2 linked regions of the Homo sapiens genome follow. The gene in region 1 interacts genetically with each later gene. Each region holds a gene or a part of one and is shown on either strand. Other genes may lie near its edges.

Region 1 (4,523 bases):
ATATATTTAGCACTTAAGTGATCCTCTGGGACATGCTTGGTGCTTCTACTTCCAGCCTTGACTGCATATGAGCAAGTTCAAGGGCTCAAGCCTGATAAGGACACAGTAACCAAGGCTTAGAGCTCTCAGGATGAGGACTCGGGTTACCCTACCAAGCAAGTGACCTAGACCAGAAGCAGGGGTGCCCATGACCCCTCCTCTCATACGTTTCTCTAGAAACTGTGACCAACCAGTTGGAGTGAGCCTAATGAGAGAAACAGCTGCAGCTGAGCAGTGCCAGAGGTGGACTACAGGGCTCCCTATCCTGATCCCATTTACCAGAAAGATACCCCCATCCCCAAGCTAGTGTAAGTAGGACAGCCAGCAGCTCCCTTTGTTCACCTGCACACTTCTCCAGATAGTTGTCCTCAGCTTACAGGAGCCACCTCATCTGGAGGATTCCGCCCTCTTCGCATCCTCTTCCTCTCCCACAGGGTGGGCCATAGCTAGTGGTAACTGATGTAGGATTGTAAAGTTCCAACGACCTTACCTCTCAGAAAGATGGGTCTGTAATACCATTCACACTCTAGAGCTTCCTGTGGGGTCAAATGACAATAAAATCCTTTTGGGCTTAGCCTCTTCTACAATCCTATTCTGTTTCCGACATTTCCTTACTGATTTCTCCTGAGAGCATTTTCTTATAAAAGTCACTTGTGCAAACATCCTGTTTTAGATCTTTCTTTGGTGCCTCCAACTTAGCAGCATGGCTCAGGGTGAAACCTTTTTCAATATAGCCTTTTTTAGGATGAGAATCACCAACACGGTGGTTGTGTCCTATCCCTCAGATAAAACGATGTGAAGAAAAAAACAATCAAAGACAACTAGTTTAAAAGCAAACATGCATATTGAAATAAAAACTTTAAAAATTAAAATTCTTAAAAGAAGACCAAAAAAGTAAATGAACAAATAATAGAAAAAAATTGTAATGCGCAAAAATTGAAAAGAAAAAAAACAGCAAAATGTTCAGAGGTGTCCATTCAGGTGACAGTAAACTCAAGAGTTGATCAAAATCTATGGTAACCATTCATATTGTACAAAAACATTTTGAAGGACACTAATACTGAGATTAGGAATGCTGCTGTTTTAGATTGTGTGCTCTCTGGGGCAAACCCACAAAAGAGGATCTGAGAACATGTGGTATATTTGGACGATTAACCCAAGAAACACTGGAGGAAACTTGAAGAATGACCCTGGGAAGGAGGGAAAGTCATTATAGAGTGAGTTCATGATCAGAATGTTCCTGCAGGCATCTGGTATAAATCCCGCTGAAGACCTCTGGAAGACTGGTTTGACATACCCCCCACTGGAGGGAAACAAGCCAGGGCATATATTACCAACTCCCACTCATTCTCTGAGTGCTGTTCCTAGAGGCTTTAAGTCTCCAGCCCAGAGTTTGCTCCTTTATCCAGAGAAAGTCCTCAGGTAGAGAGTTCCAGGTGCCTGCTCTAAGGAACCATTTTCCTATGTTTGAATGGAGAGTGCTGATAGGATAGAGGTGGAGCCCCTGATATCATCTGCTGTGGTCTTCTCCCTCTGCAGGGAAGAACATCAGAAAATTTGACAGGTAAGGATGAGAATTCAAGAAGGAAAAATGAGACACAATGCCCGTATATTATTTGTATGCCTCAAAAATTAAAATTTATTTAAGATAGAGGAATAGCTCCATGTGATAAATTATGGTAGAGAGCAAATATTTCAATTCAGGGAACATGGGGTTGACATATTTCAGAGAAAATTCAAACTTGTATTCATTTGGTAGAGGGTAGCAACATAGTGTTTGGTGAGCATATTTGGAGGCCAAACTCAATCCAAGAATTGGTTGGAACTGAGGTTGTCCAATTGGCCTTGCATGATTCAGTTCACAGGTGGATCATATCAAGAATGCTGGTTAATAAAGGCAGGTGAGTATAGGTGAGGGCATCAGCAGCAAGAGCCACTAGAGCAGGTTGGGCGGCAGCAGGTGGACACACAGCAGCTGGGGCGGTAGCAGGTGGTCCTGCAGCAGGTGGTCTGGCCACAGCTGGGGCGGCAGCAGGTGGGCTGGCAGTACACAGACTGGCAGCACTGGGGTCTGAAGCAGCTGGACACACAGCAGCTGGGACGGCAGCAGGTGGTCCTGCAGCAAGTGGTCTGGCAGCAGCTGGGGCTGCAGCAGGTGGGCTGGCAGCACACAGACTGGCAGCACTGCGGTCTGCAGCAGCTGGACACACAGCAGCTGGGGCGGCAGCAGGTGGTCCTGCAGCAGGTGGTCTGGCAGCAGCTGGGACGGCAGCAGTTCTCTAGGCCACAGCCCTGGTCAGAGCACACAGAGCCACAACAGGAGTTGACCATGGTGTCAGAGGGTGGAGGTTCTGGGTGGATTTCCAGGAAGGTGGGTTTGGAAGGTTTGGAAGTTTCCTTGCCCCAGATCCTCTTTTATACCCTGCTAAGGCCTGATGTCATCAGATGCAACACTCTTTCCTTGTTATTATTTGTCCTGATATGTAGGCAATTATCAAATTAGGCAAGTTTGTTGTTCTGGTTAACTTATCCACATAGATGGAAACACTGTCTCCTTTCCCTAATGTGTTAGGACTCCTTAGCTCAGCTCTTCCTGAACCACCTCCTGTGTCTCTCTTACTATAGCTTCCTCCTAGAGCAGCCATGTGACATCTGCCTGTAAGCACATACTATGTGCTTCAGTCTCATTTGCTTAACACATCATGACTACTCTTGGGTGATTACTATTCTTACAGGCCCTTGACTCTTTCTGGTGACTCAGGAGGATAAAGCTGCATTTCAGTCTGATGGCTCCTTCATTATGGGTCAGATGGCCTGTGAAGGTTTCAGTGTGAAACAGATTTCAGTGTGAAACAGATGACCACTGGTGTGAGAACGAGAACACCGTAGGACCTATCGCTTTTTTATCTTCCGCACTCTGAATTGTGACCCATTTTCTAGACCTTCTGATGAGAAATACAGAGCTGTTTTAAGGTGGAAAACTAAGCTGTGAAAGTTTGATGTTTCCTTTTCTACAGAAACAACCCTCCAAAATTCAGATTCAGGGCCTCTTGGGGAATGTTGGCTTCAGAGAACAGCTATACTTAAAGGTCCAAGTCCCTCATTTTTTTGCTCCCTGGGGCAGATTTTCCTTGTGACTTTGCCTTTCTGCCTTCCTAGCTCTAACAGGGCACATGAGCTCATCTCTCCAGGTTCCAAAATTTTCTGGCCAACCCAAATTAGATGACTCAGTATCCTTTGCTTGCTCTAATTCGCTCCCAGCCCTCTTGCTTTCTCTGCTGAATTGCTGGGCCTTGAAGATGTCCTATACTCTGCTGCTTCCTTATAGAAGTTGTTGATCCAATTTCACACTTTACATCTTTGTTTTCAAAAAATAAATCAATAAAGAGAGAAAGAAAGCAGAAAACAGGTATCAAGAACAAAGGATATCAGCCTATATTTTTTCATGTAGGGATGGCTGACTATTGTTTCAAAAATGTGCTATGTTGTCAATTCATTAACTCATCAGTTAATAAATATATATGTATTTCCCCACCCCTGAGGAGTCAAGGAACCCAGGGAAGGGGGTGGAAAAATGTCTGACTTACCATGATAGAAATGTTTTATGAACTGGGCAGCCTCTGCAGATAATCAGGGGAGGAGTTTCAGTGTAAGCTGGTGTTTCTGAGGGAGATCCAAGAACCAGATGGAGGGGATTGGATGAATGAGGGAGATTCCCTTTCTTCTCTCAGGTGCTTATAAGTCTAATAAATCAAATTGTGGTGTTCTTATGATGCTGCTATGTTCCAAGCCAGTTCCTACTCCTGCCCTGGCCCTAATTTCCAGGTGATTCAAGCAGAATGAAAACAACTTGGGCTCCCAAGTGAACCCCTGCTTGGTGCGCTGGCTGGTGTTCTGAGCCTGCACTGTTCTCTGGCTCTGATGTACCCAGACATCATATTTTATTGAGGGATGAAAGTGGGTTCCATGATGCTGTGGAATTAAGACCCTGTGAGCCCCATGGTGGTGTACGAGAACAACTCTAAGATTTCCAGGAGACCTTGTATTCTGGAAAAGAATCGTGCCCTTGAGAAGCCGTGACGATTGGTGCCTGCTGATGATTCAGTAGAGATCACTTTATATTAACTATTTTTCTTCATGATGTGAGTGTGTGTGAGTGTGTGTGTGTGTGTGTGTGTTTTCCTTAAGATAAATTTACATTATATTTAGGAATCTCTCACGATTTCTTCTAGTACTTTAACAATTTCATTTTTTCTACCTCTACTCAGCTATAATTGAAATATAAAATTGTATGTATATAAGGTGTACACCCTGATGCTCTGATATGTATATATTGTGAAATTATTGTCATGATCAAATTAGTTCACCTCCACCACTTCACATAGTTACCATTTTTTGAGTGTGTGTAGTGAGAACATTTTAGATCTAGTCTTTCAGCAAATTTTAAATATACAATACAGTGTAATTAACTACAGTGACCATGC
Region 2 (2,628 bases), on another chromosome or scaffold:
TCCTGGGCTGCGGGTAGCTTGCGGGCTGCGGGTTGGACAAGCTTGCTTTACATGATAGCCCAAACTAGATATTTTGAAATATTAAAAATTGTTCTCAATCTATAATAATTTTAAGTATTTAAATTTGTATTAAAGTGAGCATATTGTAACTAAATCAAGCATGTTCCTAGCATGACTTTATTTACAGATAGAGTTGACCCTTGAACAGTGTGGGGGTTAGAGGCGCTGATCTGATTTGCAGTCGAAAGTCTGTGTATAACTTTTGATCCCCTAAAAACTTAACTGCTAATAGCCTGCTGTTGACCAGAAACCTTTCCGATAACATAATTAATTAATACATATTTTGTATGCTCTTATATGTATTATATACTGTATTCTTACAATAAGCTGGAAAAGTGTTATTAAGAAAATAAGGAAGAGAAAATAATATTTACTATTCATTAAGTGAAAGTGGATCATCATAAAGGTCTTCATCCTCATGATCTTCATGTCTAGTAGGCCGAGAAGGAAGAAGAGTAGGAGTTGGTCTTGCTGTCTCAGGGGTGTCAGATGCAGAAAACAACCTACAAATGAGTGGACTTGCCAGTTCAAGCCCATGTTGTTCAAGGGTCAACTATAGTTATAATTCTATAAAAGACTAAACCTCCTGGAGTATTTGAGTTTTCCCAAAACTCCTATCTACCAATCTATCTGCATTTTTTATGGATAATCTGCGTTTTAGCTTACCTTATCAATATTTTCTTTAAACTTATTGATAGTACTGAATCTCTTAATTACTATTAACTTTGTTGATGTTTTCTATTGTTTCTACTTCCTTTTACTTTGGTATGTAGCAAGCTGCTCTCCAGGGAAGTATCTCTGAAACAAAACTCACTTAACTCCCACATTTATTTCAGGCAGGAGTTGGCAAACTATGATCTGTCCAAATCCAGCCTGCAGCTTGTTTATGTATAGCCAGCACACTAAAAATGATTTTTACATTTTAAATGGTTGGAAAAAAATTAAAAGGAGAATAATATTTCATGACATTTGAAAATTATATGAAATCCAGATTTCATTGTCCATAAACAGGTTTTATTTGAATACAGCTCATCAGTTATTTATACATTATCCATAACTATTTTTGCTACAGTGGTACAGGTGAGCAGTTGCAACAAGATACTCAAAGGTTAACATTCTTGCTTTCTGACTCTTTCTTTACAGGAAAAAAAAAAATTACTGACCCTTGCACTGTAAGATCAAGATTAAGAAGAGCAGCTTTTGCTTAGTACTTTACAATATTTTAAGACTTCATTGTGTATTTTTATTATAGATTGAGTTAAAGGAAAGACTGATGGGAAAAATGGATGAGTCCCTAAATCAAATTTTCATGGTGTGACCTGATTATCATTTGAAATTATTTTCTATAATATTGCCAAGCAAATTGTAAGACCAACTTTAGGAAGTTATGTTTTCTGCTGTTACAGATTATTAACCTGTTTTCTTTCCACACAGTCAAATTCAGTGTAAAGTCTTTGGATGTGTAGTCTGAGTTTGTTGTGTTTCTCAGCTTTGAGACTAAAAGTATTAGATAATTAGTCAAGCTAATTAGAAAGTATCTTCTGGTGTCTCTCTTTAGGAAAAAATATCTACAGTCTGTTAGGTAAATAGCTTAGGAAATAAAAGCCATCAAAATCATCTGGGAAACTTATTTAAAATATGTATTTCTTAGCCTGAATACCCCCTCCCATTTCTGATTATACCAAGAAAGGAAAGGGAGGCAGATTATATATTTTGAAAATGCCTCTGTTAGTTAACAAGAGAAATGTCTCATAAATTGTGTATCTTTTTCTAAATGTCAGAATAAATGATATACTTAAATATGTATTAGGGTGATAGTCTTAAACTTAAAATATCATTTAAATGAGAAAGTGATTTCTAATACAAAGCCTCAACTTACTAAGTTAATTGAGATTATTTTAAAGTTTCTCCAAAATGCATCCTCCAAATAAAAATATAATTTCTGACAGTGAATCACAGGTAACCAGTTTGACATGACAGATTTCATTTTATCACTCTAAAATATATTTCCTCAGTGGATGAAATGAAAATTTTATAGCTCTATAGGGAAAAGTAGATGTGAATATTAATATAACATCTTATGTAAATATACACTGTTTGAGATTGATAACTAATTTAATTCCTTATATTTTGACTATTTTCCAATTAAAGTTTACATAACATTTTAAATCCCAATGTATCCTTTTTAAAGATATATTTATTCGTGGGTCATATAAATTAGATGTCATTGTCCACAAGAATTATTTGGTGGGTAGTCAGTTTTCTATCAAACTGAATTTTATCACACTGTGAAAAGAATGTATCAAATAGAGACAGATCCATCAGTGCTTGATTTTCTTTTGAACTGGAGCATTATATCTGTATTATGTACTTAGAATTTTATATTCAGTAGTTTAGTTTGATTTAATAGCCAACTAATATGGCAAATCTGGGTGATTAAAAAAAGCAAAAATTAAAGCACATATTGAATGACTTTATAGGCTATAAAAGTAAAACTCATCTTTTGTTGAATTTTTAGAGGAAGAAGAGAAAAATAGAAAGTGTTCTCCTGAAGAAATTCAGAGAAAA

Evidence for each region. Genes that interact genetically often act in the same process or in processes that back each other up.
Region 2: changes in KRTAP4-2 (region 1) and ETAA1 are lethal when combined (synthetic lethality), as found in Homo sapiens cells (one large-scale study listed by BioGRID).

Annotation. Positions count from the first base shown.
Region 1 is NC_000017.11:41,175,795-41,180,317, forward strand, and holds KRTAP4-2 (keratin-associated protein 4-2), read right to left. Parts: upstream 2,428-4,523; 5' UTR 2,371-2,427; coding exon 1,960-2,370; 3' UTR 1,652-1,959; downstream 1-1,651. UniProt on the Homo sapiens protein: In the hair cortex, hair keratin intermediate filaments are embedded in an interfilamentous matrix, consisting of hair keratin-associated proteins (KRTAP), which are essential for the formation of a rigid and resistant hair shaft through their extensive disulfide bond cross-linking with abundant cysteine residues of hair keratins.
Region 2 is NC_000002.12:67,407,333-67,409,960, forward strand, and holds part of ETAA1 (ewing's tumor-associated antigen 1), read left to right. Parts: intron 1-2,578; coding exon 2,579-2,628. UniProt on the Homo sapiens protein: Replication stress response protein that accumulates at DNA damage sites and promotes replication fork progression and integrity.